Linked DNA regions of Homo sapiens: region 2 is linked to region 1. The links come from fine-mapping of genetic effects on gene expression. Tissue or cell type: neutrophils. Region 1 holds a variant in brackets; the other region holds the start of a gene. All regions are shown on one strand. Distances are between the middles of the regions.

Region 1 (8,105 bases):
TACTAAAAATATAAAAAATTAGCCAAGCATGGTGGCACGCGCCTGTAGTCCCAGCTACTCGGGAGGCTGAGGCAGGAGAATCACTTGAACCCAGGAAACAGAGGTTGCAGTGAGCCGAGATCATGCCACTGCACTCCAGCCTTGGCGACAGAGCAAGACTCTGACTCAAAAAAAAAAAAAAAAAAATTAGCCAGGCGTGGTGACGCACACCTGTAATCCCAGCTACTTGGAAGGCTGAGGCAGGAGAATTGCTCGAACCTGGGAGGTGGTGCAGGTTGCAGTGAGCCGAGATTGAGCCACTGCACTCCAAATTGGGTGACAGAACAAGAATTCATCTCAAAAAAACAAATAAATAAAAAATAAAAAGACAATAAGAGGATTTTGTTTTGATCATTGATGAAATGGCTTTTATTGAAGTAGTGCTCCTAAAAATATTGCTATAAAAGCTGGACAATATACAGACTTAAAATGCTTTGACGTAACTATTTTTCAACTTTACAATGGGTTCATCAGGGTATTAAATGCATTTTCTTTTTTTTTTCTTTTCTTTTTTTTTTTTGAGACAGAGTCTTGCTCTGTCGCCCAGGCTGGAGTGCAGTGGCGTGATCTTGGCTCACTGCAAGCTCCGCCCCCTGGGTTCACACCATTCTCCTGCCTCAGCCTCCCGAGTAGCTGGGACTACAGACGCCCGCTACCACGCCTGGCTAATTTTTTTTGTATTTTTAGTAGATCCGGGGTTTCACCATGTTAGCCAGGATGGTCTCGATCTCCTGACCTCGTGATCCGCCCGCCTCAGCCTCCCAAAGTGCTGGGTAAATGCATTTTCAACGTGGATGGGCTTATTGGGACATTACATCATAAGTCAAGGAGCGTCTAAACATAAAAGCGCTATGTGAAAGCACTGAAGACCAACCAATGTAAATCATCTGAGAGCCCTGTAGGAAGGAAATGCACAAGGTGAGCTCCACATTTACACTGGTTTTTTCACTGAGGGCACTTTCCAATTTGTAGCAGTGAATTAGAGGGAAAAAAAAAAGCCATTTCACTACACCAAGGAGAGACAAGAAGCTGGGATTTATAAGCCAAAATCCTGAAACAGAGGGACCCATAAAGAAACGTGACCAGAAAACCGTAACAAATTCTTAAGTTATTGGCTAACTCCTCAGCTATTAGTAGAATGAGAATTCAAAGAACCCAACAGAAAACAGCGACTGAGGAGAGATTCTAGCAGCTCCAAAATGCTGGGCACACAGACTCTAGAGTTTAAGCTCTGCCAATGTGGAGGAGTCTTGGTAAACACCCAGGTTTTCACCACTTCTAAGGGTCAGACCCTAAGGTTCAAGTCCATGCTCTAAAAGCAAAACAGATAACCAACCAGCCCCAGTAAAGTCTACAGTCAATCCAACTAACTCTTAATAAAATCAACATAATCCATTAGGAATCTGTCTGATAGAAGCATAGGTATCTTTGGAGGAAGATGATGTCATCTGAAACGTCTACAATGTTTCCATAAACAAGGTCTAATGACCAGATGAATTATAAGGTATGCTAAAATCCAGAAGAAGCAACAGATAAAATAAAAAGATGAGGAATTTCACCAGACACCTGAAAAATAACAGACTCAAATGAAAAGTCTACAAGTGACAGTAGAATTGAAAGTAAGAATTCCAACACATGTATTTAACAGACCAGACCAATACAACAGATTACTGAACTCGAAGACAGGTCAAATAGAAAATATGCAGACTGAATCAGAAGGAAAAAGAAGAAAAAAATTAGAAAAGAATATAAGATACACTGAAAACATCTAACATACATGTAAATAAAGCCACAAATGCCAAAGACAAAAGAGAATAAAATACGAGAACATTTCCATCAATACTGGCCAAGAAACTCCCCAAACTGACAAAAAACCTTAACTATGGATCCAAGAAACTCAGCAAATTCTAAGCAATATAATGCAAAGATAACTAACACCTAGGCACATCATATTCAAGCTATTAAAATCTAAGAACAAAGAGAAAAATTTTAAACTGAGAGGAAAAAAGACTTAATATCTTTCAAAAGAGCAAGAAAAAGGCTGACAGCTGATTTTTGAGTAGGAGAGTGGAAGCTGGAAGACAACATATGGGCATTCTTAAGAGCTGATGTGCTAGAAAAACCTGACAGTTCTAGCCTAGTGAAAATGGTCTTTAAAAATGAAGATGTGTTCAAATCAAAGCTAAGAGAATTCATCATTAGTAGATAAGCAATTAAAGAGATACTAAAGGCAGGGCTCGGTGACTCACGCCTGTAATCCCAGCACTTTGGGAAGCCGAGGCGGACCACAAGGTCAGGAGTTGGAGACCAGCCTGGCCAACATGGTGAAACCCTGTCTCTACCAAAAAAATACAAAAATTAGCTGGGTGTGGTAGCGCATGCCTGTAATGCCAGCTACTTGGGAAGCTGAGACAGGAGAATTGCTTGAACCAGGGAGGCAGAGGTCGCAGTGTGCTGAGATCACTCCGCTGCGCTCCAACCAGGTGACAGAGCAAGACTCTGTCTTGAAAAAAAAAAAAAATTAAAAAATTAAAAAAATTTAAGAGATACTAAGCATAATTGTTCAGGCTAAAACATCAAACTGGGTAAAAAACAGAAAAAGTAAAATGATATATAAGTGAATATTGTTTACAAGTAATAGCATTTTGAGGGTTGTTAAAATGTTCGTAGAAGTAACATATTTGTTGACAAAAATAGCAAAAAGGAAGAGAGTAACAGAGTGAAATTGTTGGCCAGGGGCAGTGGCTCAAGCCTATAATCCCAGCAGGTGAGACCCTGTCTCTACCAAAATATATTATATATTTAAAACAGAAAAGAAAAAGCCTGATTAATCATTACTAAATAAATGCTGTTGGCCAAAAATTTTTAAACGCTTCAGTCATTTAGGGGGAAAAAAAGCTACGTGTTTCATTGTTATTCACCTAGATAAACAAGTCAAGATTAAAATTTATTTCCCTGAAGATAAACAAATAAGCTTGGGCCAGAATAACAAATCCCCATTCCCATTTCTACATCTTTAGTTTGCTCTCCTCTTCATTTGGAAGGAATTTAGGTCACAAAAGAACATTCCAGGACACAATTTCAAACTTGTGCTTCTTCTATTATTATGATAATCAGTTGTGTGATTCCAGCTGTCTAGAATGGTTTTGACAGAAATAAAAGTGAAATGCCTTCAAGAGAGCCAAACACATAGAAAGCACCAGGTAGATGGTAGCTAAAGAAATCCACAAAACAGAAACCTCCTTGCAGAGTAAAACAGGAGGAAAAAACCCCACAAAACCAGAAACTAATACTGTTAGCCTAGATTTAAAAACAAAACTCAACTATTTACAAGAGATAGTTTTAAATACACACACAGATAAATATATACAGATACG[T/C]TGAAATTAAAAGTAAGTAGAAAAATATACCAGGCAAATACTAATTAGAAGGAAGCTGTTATGACCATATTAATATCAGGCAGAGTAGATTTAACACAAAAAGCATTACCAAGGATTGAGAGAGACATGTGACAGTGCTAAAAAGGTTGACAGGGTTCAAGATATGCTACCCTAAAATATGGCACCTTGGCATTTGAGGAAACAGCAGAAACAGGTAGATCAGTCTCATTCTCCCCTTGCCCTTCTCCCCTCAAAGCAGACCAAAAAAGAAATTATCTGTCCTTCCTCTGAAGTAGGTCATAAAACCTTCCTTTCCGAGGTATTGTTCGTATACCCAGAGGAAAGGAACAACCTTATCCTTGAAGATGCAGAGATGCCACGAAGAATCTGAACGAACAGGCTAAGCTAAGTTCCCCTTAATTTATTACCATTAGATCATACCCCTTTTGCCCTCCAATCATACTTCTCCACAAACTATCCACTTCCTCATCAAACTTAGGCCAGGAGTTCAAGACCAGCCTGGCCAACATGGCGAAACCCTGTCTCTACTAAAAATACCAAAATTAGGCTGGGCGCGGTGGCTCATGCCTGTAATCCCAGCACTTTGGGAGGCCGAGGCAGGAGGATCATGAGGTCAGGAGATCAAGACCAGCCTGGCCAACATGGTGAAACCCCATCTCTACTAAAAATACAAAAATTAGCTGGGCATGGTGGCACACACCTGTAGTCCCAGCTACTCGGGAGGCTGAGGCAGGAGAATCGCATGAACCAGGGAGGCGGAGGTTGCAGTGAGCTGAGATTGCGCCACTGCATTCCAGCCTGGCGACAGAGCAAGACTCCATCTCAAAAAACAAAACAAAACAAAAAACCCCAAAAATTAGCCAGGCGTGGTGGCAGGTGCCTATAATCCCAGCTACTTGGGAGGCTGAGGGACGAGAATTGCTTGAACCCAGGAGGCAGAGGTTTCAATGAGCCAAGATCATGCCACTGCACTCCAGCCTAGGCAACAGAGTTGAGACTGTCTCAAAAAAACAAAACAAAACAAACAAACAAAAAACAAAAAAGGCCGGGCACTGTGGCTCACGCCTGTAATCCCAGCACTTTGGGAGGCCAAGGTGAGCGGACCACCTGAGATCAGCAGTTCGAGACCAGACTGGCCAACATGGCAAACCCTTTCTCTACTAAAAATACAAAAAAAATTAGCCAGGTGTGGTGATAGGCGCCTGTGATCCCAGTTACTCAGGAGTCTGGGGCAGGGAGAATTGCTTGAACCTGGGAGGCAGAAGTTGCAGTGAGCCGAGATCACACCACTGCACTCCAGCCTAGGCAACAGAGAGAGACTCCATCTCAAAAACAAAACAAAACAAAAAAGACAGAAAAAAATATAATATATATATATGTATATGTGTGTGTGTGTGTGTGTGTGTGTATAAAATAAAATATAAAATCACATGCATTTCTTTTGTTAATCTGTCTTTTGTTAAAGGGGTCTCAGCCATGAATCTAGGCAATGGGCGAAGAAAATCTTTTCTCCCCAACAAAGTCAATTAATCAGAAAAACACAATTTCATCTCTGCTGGACCCAATTATATAACTTTAAAATATATAAAGCAAACATTGACAGAAGTAAATAAGAAATAGACAAATCCATAATCATAGTTGGAGATTTTAGCACAACTTTCTTGGTAACTAATAAAATAAGCAGAAAAAACGGAAGAAAAACACAATTTTTTAATGATTCAGTCCAAAAGCCACCAAGCCATTAGTAGGACAGAACATGGGAGGCATCTATTTCAGAAATGCTGGGAGTTGTGGTGGCCCATATAAGAGCTGTCTAGTGTAGGATGTCAGAGGCCAAGTGGGGTGAGGAAAAATATCCAAGCTGGTGGGTAGGAGAAGAGTAGTCATGGCTTAGTAGCTTTTAAGGACAGTTTTACTTTTTTAAACCTGACATGAATGGAATCATAGTGTATGTGTTCTATAGCTTTATCTCTACATTATGTTTTTGGGACTCATCCATGTTTATGTGTGCAGCCATAGCAAATACTTTTTTTTTTTTTTTGAGATGGAGTCTCACTCTGTCACCCAGGCTGGAGTGCAGTGGTGTGATTTCAGCTCACTGCAACCTCCACCTCCTGGGTTCAAGCCATTCTCCTGCTTCAGCCTCCCAAGTAGCTGGGATTACAGGAGTGGGCCACCACACTCAGCTAATTTTTGTATTTTTTGTGGAGATGGGGTTTCACCATGTTGGCCAGGTTGGTCTTGAACTTCCGACCTCAAGTGATCCGCCCCCCCGCCCCCCCGGCCTCCCAAAGTGCTGGGATTTCAGGCCTGAGCCACCACGCCCAGCTGCAAATATTTTTTGATTACTGTCTTCCATTATAAAAATAATTATTCAGTCTACCTTTATGGGTAACAGTCCAAGTTTACATGGCTGAATCAGTCAGCTATTGCCCAGTAAAAATCACAACAGAGCAGGTTGTCCCAAGCAGAGTAAAAAAGCATTCATATGGAAGAGCAGTTGACTGCAGTGTGTCAGAACCAGACAGTGGTGAGGAGAGCATCTTAGAGGCAGCCCAGAATGTCAGTCTACCAAGCAGAGGAGGTCACTGGCATAGAGTCCTCAAGTCAAGCAGTGTGAGAGGGCATTCCAGTGAAGGGGTGCCCTGGGGTGATGATGTGTCAGAGAGCCTAGCAGGAAGAGGAGGGAATCCATATTGGAATTCAACAAGGAGAGTCAAAGCCCAAGCAGTGTGAGGAAGGCTTACATGTGGGGTAGGAGGCAGCAGTGGAAAAAGGACATTGGTCACATATAGGAAAACTGATTAAATAAATGTGTTAATTATAACTGGAGCCAGGCCTTGCACTGTAGAAGTTAGTTACAAATATGGAAAGGAGAAAATTAGAACAATCCTTATATAGATATTTTTTGAGACAAGGTCTGGTTCTATTGCCCAGGCTGGAATGCAGTGGTGCAATCACAGCTTATTGCAGCCTCAACCTCCCCAGGGTACAGGTGATCCTCCTACTTCAGCCTCCCGAGTATCTGAGACCACAGGTGAGTGCCACCACGTCTGGCAACTTTTTGTGTTTTTTGTAGAGATAGAGTTTCACCATGTTGCCCAGACTGGTTTTGAACTGCTAGGCTCCAGTGATCTGCCCGCCTTGGCCTCCCAAAGTGCTGGGATTACAGGTATGAGCCACCACGCCTGGCCCTACCAGACTGAAAGTGGATGTATCTACGTGGATTCACGGTTTTTGATATATAAAAATATAGAAATAAGGCCGGGTGTGGTGGCTCATGCCTGTAATCCTAGCACTTTGGGAGGCCGAGGCAGGTGGATCGCTTGAGTCCAGGAGTTTGAGACCAGCCTAGGCAACAGGGTGAAACCCCCTCTCTATTAAAAGTATAAAAACTGAGGAGGATCACCTGAGTCTGGGGAGGTGGAGGCTGCAGTGATCTGTAATTATACCACTACACTCCAACCTGGGAGACAGAGTGAGACCCTGTCTCAAAAAAAAAAAAAAAGGAATAAATACAGATATAAACTTAAGTGCATATATATACATACACACACACACACACACATATGTATATGTATAGGTTTTTTGTGTGTGTCTTTGTTGATTTTGGTATCAGGGTAATGCTGGCCTCATAGAATGAGTCTGGAAGTATCCCCTCTTCAATTTTTGAAATAGTTTTCTTTTTGGCGTGTGTGTGTGTGCGTGTGCACACAAACAATTCTTTTCAAACAGAGGGCCTGGAAGCAGTGGTATCCTGATAAGCAATAAGCATATCTAGTACCCAGATCCTGGATTGTCAATACCGCTGTCCACTAAAAAGAACTAGGGATTCCTGGAAAAGCGTAGAATGAACTTGAAAAAAAATTTTGTGCTGAAAACAAGGAAATGTTCAAGAATTATGGGACCATTTCAAAATAACACAGGAATCAGTTTAAAGGACGTCTCACAAACTGTACCTGAGACAATGTGCATATCAAAATAAATAATGATGGTAAGAGTTCATAAACTATTGAATAAAATAGCAAACTATGAGTAGGTATAGACACAAATCAATCAATCAATCAATCTGAGGTCTTGTGAGCAACATAAGTATCCTATTTCAAAGTCCTTCCCACTAAATACAGATTAATTACAAAGGGAAAATGAGTAACTTTACAGTAAAGGACTCTGGTAGACACCACTTTAATCGAGTGTCAAATTTAACATCATCATAATGGGACAAATGTAAATGATGCCACCTGTTGGAATACAATGAGAGGTACAAAGCATTAGTTCTGTCACACCCCTGCCAAAATTAGTGACCTAAATATAATCATGAGGAAGCATCAAACAAAACAAATTGGCTTGTAATATTTTAAAAAGTCAAGGTTATAAAAATCAAAGGAAGACAAGGAACTATTTCAAACTGAGATACGACAACTAAGTGCAATGTGTAATTCTGAATGGCCTTTTGCTATAAAGGAAGGTATTAGATAAAATGGAAAACCCTGAATTAGGGTCTATTAGTCGATACAAGCGTATTAAGGTTAAGTTTCCTGATTTAAATGGCTGTATTGTGGTTATGTGGGAGAAGTTCCTTGTTTACAGATAATCTATACCTAAGTATTTCAAGTGATGGGTCATCAGACTGGCACTAACTCTTGAATGCTTAGGGAGAAAAGTTTT
Region 2 (8,092 bases), 94 kb before region 1:
AAAATAAACTATCCCCAAATCTTAACAGCTTACAACAACAACAGCTTACAAAAACAAATGTTTATTTCTTCCTCGGTTGTGACTCTGCTAGGCTGGTCCCAAGACAATAGGTTGGATTCAGGGCTACCCTGAGTATTTCTCACTCAGGGACAAGCTGAAATAGAGGCTATCTGTGGGTGGCAGGAAGGTAAGGGGACTGATGGAAACTGACCATGCCTTTCTCACTCATCATTGACCAAAGTAAGAGACAGGGCCAAACCCAACATCAACAGAATGAGGCGAAAATACTCTACCCATTGGGTAGAATGGAGTAATTTTGCTAAAAAAATCTTCCTTTTTTTTTCTAGATTTTACTACTTGTTGCTGTAGAATTTCACATAATTTAATTTATTTTTGTTTTAATCACTCCTATATCTGTGGTTGTATCTCCTTTCTCATTCCCAGTCTTTCAGACCTTGGCTATTTCTTGTTTCCCAGCTGTAACTCACAATACATTTCATTCATGTTACTGGTTTTTATAAAGAACAAGCTGGGACTACAGGCAACCACCACCACACCCAGCTAATTTTTGCATTTTTAGTAGAGATGGGGTTTCATCATGCTGGCCAGGCTGGCCTTGAACTCCTGACCTCAAGTGATCCACCCCTCTCAGCCTCCCAAAGTGCTGGGATTATAGGTATGAGCCACAGCACCCAGCCCATTTCTCAACTTTCATAATTGGATACATTTCTACTAAATATAATCTATTTCCCCATATCTGGGAAACCACACTGTTTCTACACTCACACAGAACACTTCGTTTCTGACACTAGATATGCAGGTTTTATTCCCACATCAATCAATTCTCTGACATAGGCTGGGTGTTCCACAATTCAATTCTGACACTCTCTACCTGGAGTTAGTGTCAGATCCCACAGATTAAGGGCTCAGTCCCGCAAGGTTGCCCCCATTAAAGATGCCAACTGCAAATCCAAGCCTCCTACACTTCTGACCAACTGGCTGTATAAATCAGGGATTCTCATGACTCCCTCCTTGGATTTGATAATTTGCTAGAATCCTTCATAAAACTCAGGGAAACACTTACGTTTACTAGTTTATGATAAAGAATATTATAGGCCGGGCGCGGTGGCTCACGCCTGTAATCGCAACACTTTGGGAGGCCGAAGCAGGTGGATCTCTTGAGCCCAAAAGTTCAAGACCAGCCTGGCCAACATGGCGAAACCCTGTCTCTACTAAATATGCAAAAATTAGCCGGGCTTGGTGGTGCATGCCTGTAATCCCAGCTACTTGGGAGGCTGAGGCAGGAGAATCACGTAAACCCAGGAGACAGAGATTGCAGTGAGCCGAGATCACCCCACTGCATTCCAGCCTAGGCGACAGAGCCAGACTCTGCCTCAAAAAAAGATATATATATATAATAAAGGGATGAACAGCCAGGTGAAGAGGTATGTAGAATGAGGTCCAGAAGGATCCCAAGTGCAGGAGTCTCTGTCCCCATGGAGTTGGGGTACACCACACCATCTTCCCATGGTGGATGTGTTCACCAGCTGGGAAGCTCACCACATTTCTTTGTTCAAGAGTTTTTAGGGCCAGGCGCAGTGGCTCACACCTCTAATCCCAGCACTTTTGGAGGCCTAGGCAAATGGATAACCTGAGGTAAGGAGTTCAAGACCAGCCTGGCCAACATGGAGAAATCCCATTTCTACTAAAACCACAAAAATGGGCCGGACCCAGTGGCTCACGCCTGTAATCCCAGCACTTTGGAAGGCCGAGGCAGGTGGATTGCCTAAGCTCAGGAGTTTGCGACCAGCCTGGACTGTTGCAAAACCCTGGGCTGGTGAAACCCTGTCTCTACTAAAATACAAAAAATTAGCTGGGCGTGGCAGCGTGCATCTATAGTCCCAGCTACTTGAGAGGATTGCAGGGAGCCGAGATCGCCTGGGTGACAGAGTGAGACTCTGTCTCAAAAAAAAAAAAAAAAAAAAAATTACCCTGGTGTGGTGGCTCACACCTGTAGTCCCAGCTACTCGGGAGGCTGAGGCAGGAGAATCGCTTGAACCTAGGAGGTGGAGGTTGCAGTGAACTGAGGTCAGGCCACTGCACTCCAGCCTGGGCAACAGAGTGAGACTCAGTTTCAACAACAACAACAAAAAAGAATTCTTATAGCGTGTAATCTCCAGTCCCTGCTTCCCCTTCCCAGGGTCTTTCTGGTGACCAGCTCATCCTGAAGCTATCTAGGGCCCCCACCCTAAGTCATATTAGCATAAACTCGAGTGTGCTTATAAGGGTTTGTTATTAATATAAAAAGTCACTTCTATCACATACGAAATTCCAAGGGTTTTAGGAGCTCTGCAGGAGAACAAAATATAATAAAAGATACTTATTGGCCAGGCAGAGTGGCTCATGCCTATAATTCCAGTACTTTACAGGCTGAGGTGGGAGAATTGCTTGAGTCCAGGAGTTCATGATCAGCCTGGGCAACGTAGCAAGACCGTATATCTAGTTAAAAACAAAAGAAAGAAAGAGATGTTTATTCAGCAAATAACAAAGGTTTTAGGAGTGCTATTGTAGGAACCCAGGACAAAGACCAAAAATATATATTTCTTATTACACACTGCAAGATTACATCGACCAAGGGCTCACTAAGATAAAATCTTAGGCACTTTCAACTACTAGTTTTACTGGGATACTTTAGTATACTTAGTGGTTGGTATTATTAGATTTTTTTTAAAGTTACTCCTTGCATCTTAAAAGTTCTTATTTAGCACTTACATTACACATTCCTCATCTATCTTAATCCATTCCATTTTCTTAATCCAATCAGTTTTAGTGTCGATTTTTGCAAAGTTTGTTATTTACAACTATTTCCTTTCCATCTGTCTCTGTTCTAGGATATTTATTTGGTTCAAACCTTTCCTCGATTTTGGACAGATGTGTATCCGGATGATGTGTCTCTGAATCCTTATACATCCTCAGACATGTTTTTTGCCCTAACAAGTGAATTATATCTTAATGGGGTATATTGAGTTACAGTGCTTTTCTTCTAGTCAATAGACGCTAGTCTACTCTCTTCTAGCTTCCAGATTGCAGATAGAAACTTGCTGGGCACAGTGGCTCATACTTGTAATCCTAGCACTTTGGGAGGCTGAGGCAGGAGGATTGCTTGAGTCCAGGAGTTTGAGACCAGCCTGGGCAACATAATGAGACCCCTACACTACAAAAAAGAGAGAGAGAGAAAGAGGGGGTGGGGAAGGAGGGAAGGAAGGAAGGAGGGAGGGAGGGAGAGAAGGAAGCCATTTTTTTTAACCAATTGTGAGTAACTTATTCTTTCCACACTTGTTAGAACCTGAAATTTTATAAAATATAGGCATGCATTTTTGTTCTTATGAATCCATCCTTTAGTGAATGTTTTCAATCCGTATAATCTGGTAGAATTTAGGAAAACTGTATTCTTTTATTTGGTTAACTATTGAATCTTCTTCATCCATTCCTCTTCCTCCTTCTAAAATTCCTTTTTTTTTTTTTTTTTTGAGACGGAGTCTCACTCTGTCGTCCAGGCTGGAGTGCAGTGGTGCGATCTCGGCTCACTGCAAGCTCCCCCTCCCGGGTTCACGCCATTCTCCTGCCTCAGCCTCCCGAATAGCTGGGACTACAGGCGCCCGCCACCACGCCCGGCTAATTTTTTGTATTTTTAGTAGAGACGGGGTTTCACCGTGTTAGCCAGGATGGTCTCGATCTCCTGACCTCGTGATCCGCCCGCCTTGGCCTCCCAAAGTTCTGGGATTACAGGCGTGAGCCACCGCGCCCGGCCTAAAATTCCTGTTATTCTCATAGCAGGGTCTCCTGAATTTTTCCTTAAGTCCCATCATTTTATTATTTCCATCTCTATAGGCTTTTGCTCTGTTGTGTTAAAGAAATAATTATTCAATGATACTTGTTAAAGCACATTAAGGAAGACTTTATTTAGCACCATCGCTACAGGTTTAGGGACCACTGCAATGAGTTCTTGCAGTGGAGGAGACAGGTTGGGATCAACTCTGAATGCATCACGGACAAGTGGGAATGTATAGCCAAGGAGCAGTGTAGGGGGTCAGTGGATGGAAAATTGGTAAGAGGCATCAGGGGTAAGGGGGATTCTATCTAAACTGACCTAACAGGATTCTCACTGAAGACAGGCCAGGGTGGTCGGATATCACTTGGGGGATGGTGGAGGATGAGATATTGAGGGTGATCAGATGTCAAGGATGGGAGGTTCTTACTAAAACAGGAATTTACAAGGAGTGCTACGGATATGTAGTGGGGGGAGGCCAGGGATGCTGCTAAACATCCTACGATGCACAGGACGATCTCCTACAATAACGAACTAGCTAGTCCAAAATGTCAATAGCGCCGAGATTGAGAAACCTTCATGTAGCTTACGGATACAGCTTTTACCCAATCGCCAGCATCCTTCTCCTGGGGCTGAACCTCTCCCCCAGGACTGTCAGGAGGAGGCGAGTGATAAGGATCCCAGGACTGCGTTTTGCCTTCCTTCCCCACCCCCACTCCCAACGGCTCCTTTCTCTTCTCTTAGCAGCACCCAGCTTGCCCACCCATGCTCAAGATGGGCGGGATGCCAGCCTGTTACATAAATGTGCCAAAAGCCTGGCCATGCCTGGAAAATGGACCAATCCGCCCGCCAAGAGGTTGGGTCTCGTTCCCTAGAGAGAAGGAAGTTTCCTCTCCTTGAAGTGAGAGCTAGAATCGCACTTTCTGTCAAGCTGAGAGAAAGACTCTTTTCCAGAGGCTAAAAGGACAAGAAAATCTGATTTGCTTGCTTCTAACTTTGCGTTTTAAAGGGGGAAGGAGGAAAGGAAAGAGGGGGAGGGTGGTTCTGCTTAGCCCCACCCCTCCGGCTACCCCAGGTCCAGCCGTCCATTCCGGTGGAGGCAGAGGCAGTCCTGGGGCTCTGGGGCTCGGGCTTTGTCACCGGGACCCGCAGGAGCCAGAACCACTCGGCGCCGCCTGGTGCATGGGAGGGGAGCCGGGCCAGGAGTAAGTAACTCATACGGGCGCCGGGGACCCGGGTCGGGCTGGGGGCTTCCAACTCAGAGGGAGTGTGATTTGCCTGATCCTCTTCGGCGTTGTCCTGCTCTGCCGCATCCAGCCCTGTACCGCCATCCCACTTCCCGCCGTTCCCATCTGTGTTCCGGGTGGGATCGGTCTGGAGGCGGCCGAGGACTTCCCAGGCAGGAGCTCGGGGCGGAGGCCGGGTCCGCGGCAGACCAGGGCAGCGAGGCGCTGGCCGGCAGGGGGCGCTGCGGTGCCAGCCTGAGGCTGGGCTGCTCCGCGAGGATACAGCGGCCCCTGCCCTGTCCTGTCCTGCCCTGCCCTGTCCTGTCCTGCCCTGCCCTGCCCTGTCCTGTCCTGCCCTGCCCTGCCCTGTGTCCTCAGACAATATGTTAGCCGTGCACTTTGACAAGCCGGGAGGACCGGAAAACCTCTACGTGAAGGAGGTGGCCAAGCCGAGCCCGGGGGAGGGTGAAGTCCTCCTGAAGGTGGCGGCCAGCGCCCTGAACCGGGCGGACTTAATGCAGGTACCCAGGGCTCAGCCGCGCCGGGGCGGGCGGGACTCCAGAGCCTCCCTCTCAACAGCACTCAGTGGACATTGACCAGACGTGAAGGCGTGCACCGCTCCACACCCAGCAGGCAGCTGCGCTGGGGCTTCCCAGACCTAAACCCAGGGCGCCCTCTTTGTTCATGCAAAACAAGGGGGAGTACTTGTAAAGCAGAATCCACCCCGAGCTAATCCATAGCCACTCAGGCCTCCAGATGAGGGCGGAACTAACATTGTTGTGGGGTGTGGGCACACTTACTCCCCAGGCTACCCTGTTCGCCATCTTAATTCTACAGATAAGGAAACTGAAGTTCAGTGAGGTTAAGCAGTACGCCCAAGGCCGTGACACTAGCAATCAGAAGAGCTGGGATTCAAGCTGAGGTCTTTGTGGCTCCAAAGACCTCTTAACTCTTTCCACTCTGAGAGTCCCGGAGCTGACAGCGGGCAGTACTCTTAAGAATTTTCTTCTGTCTGATGCTGATTTACTGACCTGGGCCAGCTGCATTGGTTGGGGTCATTCAGAAATGTGCATCAGAATCCCCCGGGGCACAAAAGAAACGTGATGGGGGCCCAGGCACGTGTACTTTGAAATACTCCTCAGGTGGTTCTGCCACACACTCCTGGTTAAGTCCCTCTGCTCTACAGCTTCTGAGGACTGGGGTGAGTGAGCACAGAGCCTAGCGCTTGATGCATGGGAACCATCGTCAAGGTTCCTAATCCCACTACTATTATTTCCCGTCTGGGACTCAGTTTCTCCATCTGTAAAGCAAGGGGTTCAGATGAGGTAAATAGCTAAGGACTCTACCAGTTATAACATCCACTGATCATGTGACCTCCAGTTTATTTGCATAAAACTAATGGCCTCTCCTTTTTCTTCTCCTTACTTACAAAAACCTGACTTCATTCTGAAATTTATTTTTGAAAAAAAAAAGAGGGGATCTTGGAAGGGGGGCCAGGGGTAGTGACATACAGATTTCTGATCATGCTCACCACTTAGTGCACTTCTTTCTCTGCAGAGACAAGGCCAGTATGACCCACCTCCAGGAGCCAGCAACATTTTGGGACTTGAGGCATCTGGACATGTGGCAGAGCTGGGGCCTGGCTGCCAGGGACACTGGAAGATCGGGGACACAGCCATGGCTCTGCTCCCCGGTGGGGGCCAGGCTCAGTACGTCACTGTCCCCGAAGGGCTCCTCATGCCTATCCCAGAGGGATTGACCCTGACCCAGGCTGCAGCCATCCCAGAGGCCTGGCTCACCGCCTTCCAGCTGTTACATCTTGTGGGTGAGGAGGCCTCCATGCTCACTCCACACAATGTGGCTCAACACCTTCATAAATCAGCCAACTTGAATCCCAGCAATCCCCCAGGGCACTCCCAGGCCTTCCTGTATCACCTGTATTGTCAGGTCCTCAAACCATGTTAGAAGGGTTTAATGTTGAGGCTGAGAATCATGGTTAGCAGATAGAGGGTCTGGATAACACTAGATAGGAGGCCTATGTACATGTTAACACCGGACGCCCAGCAGAAGTCCCAGCTTCTTAGAATCATACTGAGCTTCTCTCTGGGGTCCCAGTGCAACAGAAGGGACCAATTGACTCATTTATTCCTCCTCAATCCCACAGAGGCCAGTCAAGAACTCACATAAGGGAATCTAAGAAGACTTGGTCCTTGCCTTTAGACAGTGCAGTGTAACTGAGAAGGCAACATATGCATAAGATCAGATGACCATAGAGTTTAGAAGGATAGCCCTGTCTATGATAGAAGCTGGAGATGAGTAAAGATGGTGTGGACAAGGGTAGTCAGAAGGCTTTTTGGAAGGCTTTGAAGGGTGGGTAGACTTGTGAAGGACATAAGGCATGCCAAGGTGGCCTAAGAAAGAGTATCAGCCAGGCAAGGTGGCTCACACCTATAATCGTAGCACTTTGGAAGACAGATCACGAGCCCAGGAGTTCAAGATCAGCCTGGGCAACATGGCGAAACCCTGTTTCTACAAAAAATACAAAAATTAACCAGGCATGATGGTGCATGCCTGTTGTCTCAGTTACTCAGGAGGCTGAGTTGGGAGGATCACCTGAGCCCAGGAAGGTCAAGGCTGCAGTGAGCCATGATCATGCCACTGCACTCCAGCCTGGGCAGTAGAGTGAGACTCTGTCTCAAAGAAAAAGAAAGAGTAGGCTGGGCGTGGTGGCTCACGCCTGTAATCCCAGCACTTTGGGCGGCTGAGGTGGGTGGATCATGAGGTCAGGAGATCGAGACCATCCTGGCTAACACGGTGAAACTTCATCTCTACTAAAAATACAAAAAATTAGCTGGGCGTGGTGGTGGGCACCTGTAGTCCCAGCTACTCAGGAAGCTGAGGCAAGAGAATGGCATGAACGCAGGGGGGGTGGGGCAGAGCTTGCAGTGAGCCAAGATTGCGCCACTGCACTCCAGCCTGGGTGACAGAGTGAGACTCCGTCTCAAAAAAAAAAAAAAAACAGTATCAAGGTGAGACC

The links. PIP is the estimated chance that this variant, and not a neighbour inherited with it, causes the effect.
Region 2: TP53I3 starts here. The variant in region 1 is fine-mapped to the expression of TP53I3 in neutrophils (BLUEPRINT, PIP 0.95).

What each region holds. Positions count from the first base shown.
Region 1 is chr2:23,988,147-23,996,251 of GRCh38, reverse strand. The region is part of intron 6 of UBXN2A (UBX domain protein 2A); the gene reads right to left. Among named protein-coding and RNA genes, the nearest start is that of MFSD2B, 18 kb to the left of the region's middle. The variant T/C (reference allele first, on the strand shown) is at 3,417.
Region 2 is chr2:24,081,673-24,089,764 of GRCh38, reverse strand. It overlaps TP53I3 (tumor protein p53 inducible protein 3), which reads left to right and starts at 4,931. Exons shown (of 5, transcript NM_004881.5): 1 at 4,931-5,576; 2 at 6,613-6,880. The coding sequence starts at 5,439. It also overlaps a transcript of FAM228B not described here. RefSeq lists enhancers at 4,146-4,646, 5,394-5,443, 5,594-5,693, 6,289-7,219 and a silencer at 5,204-5,383.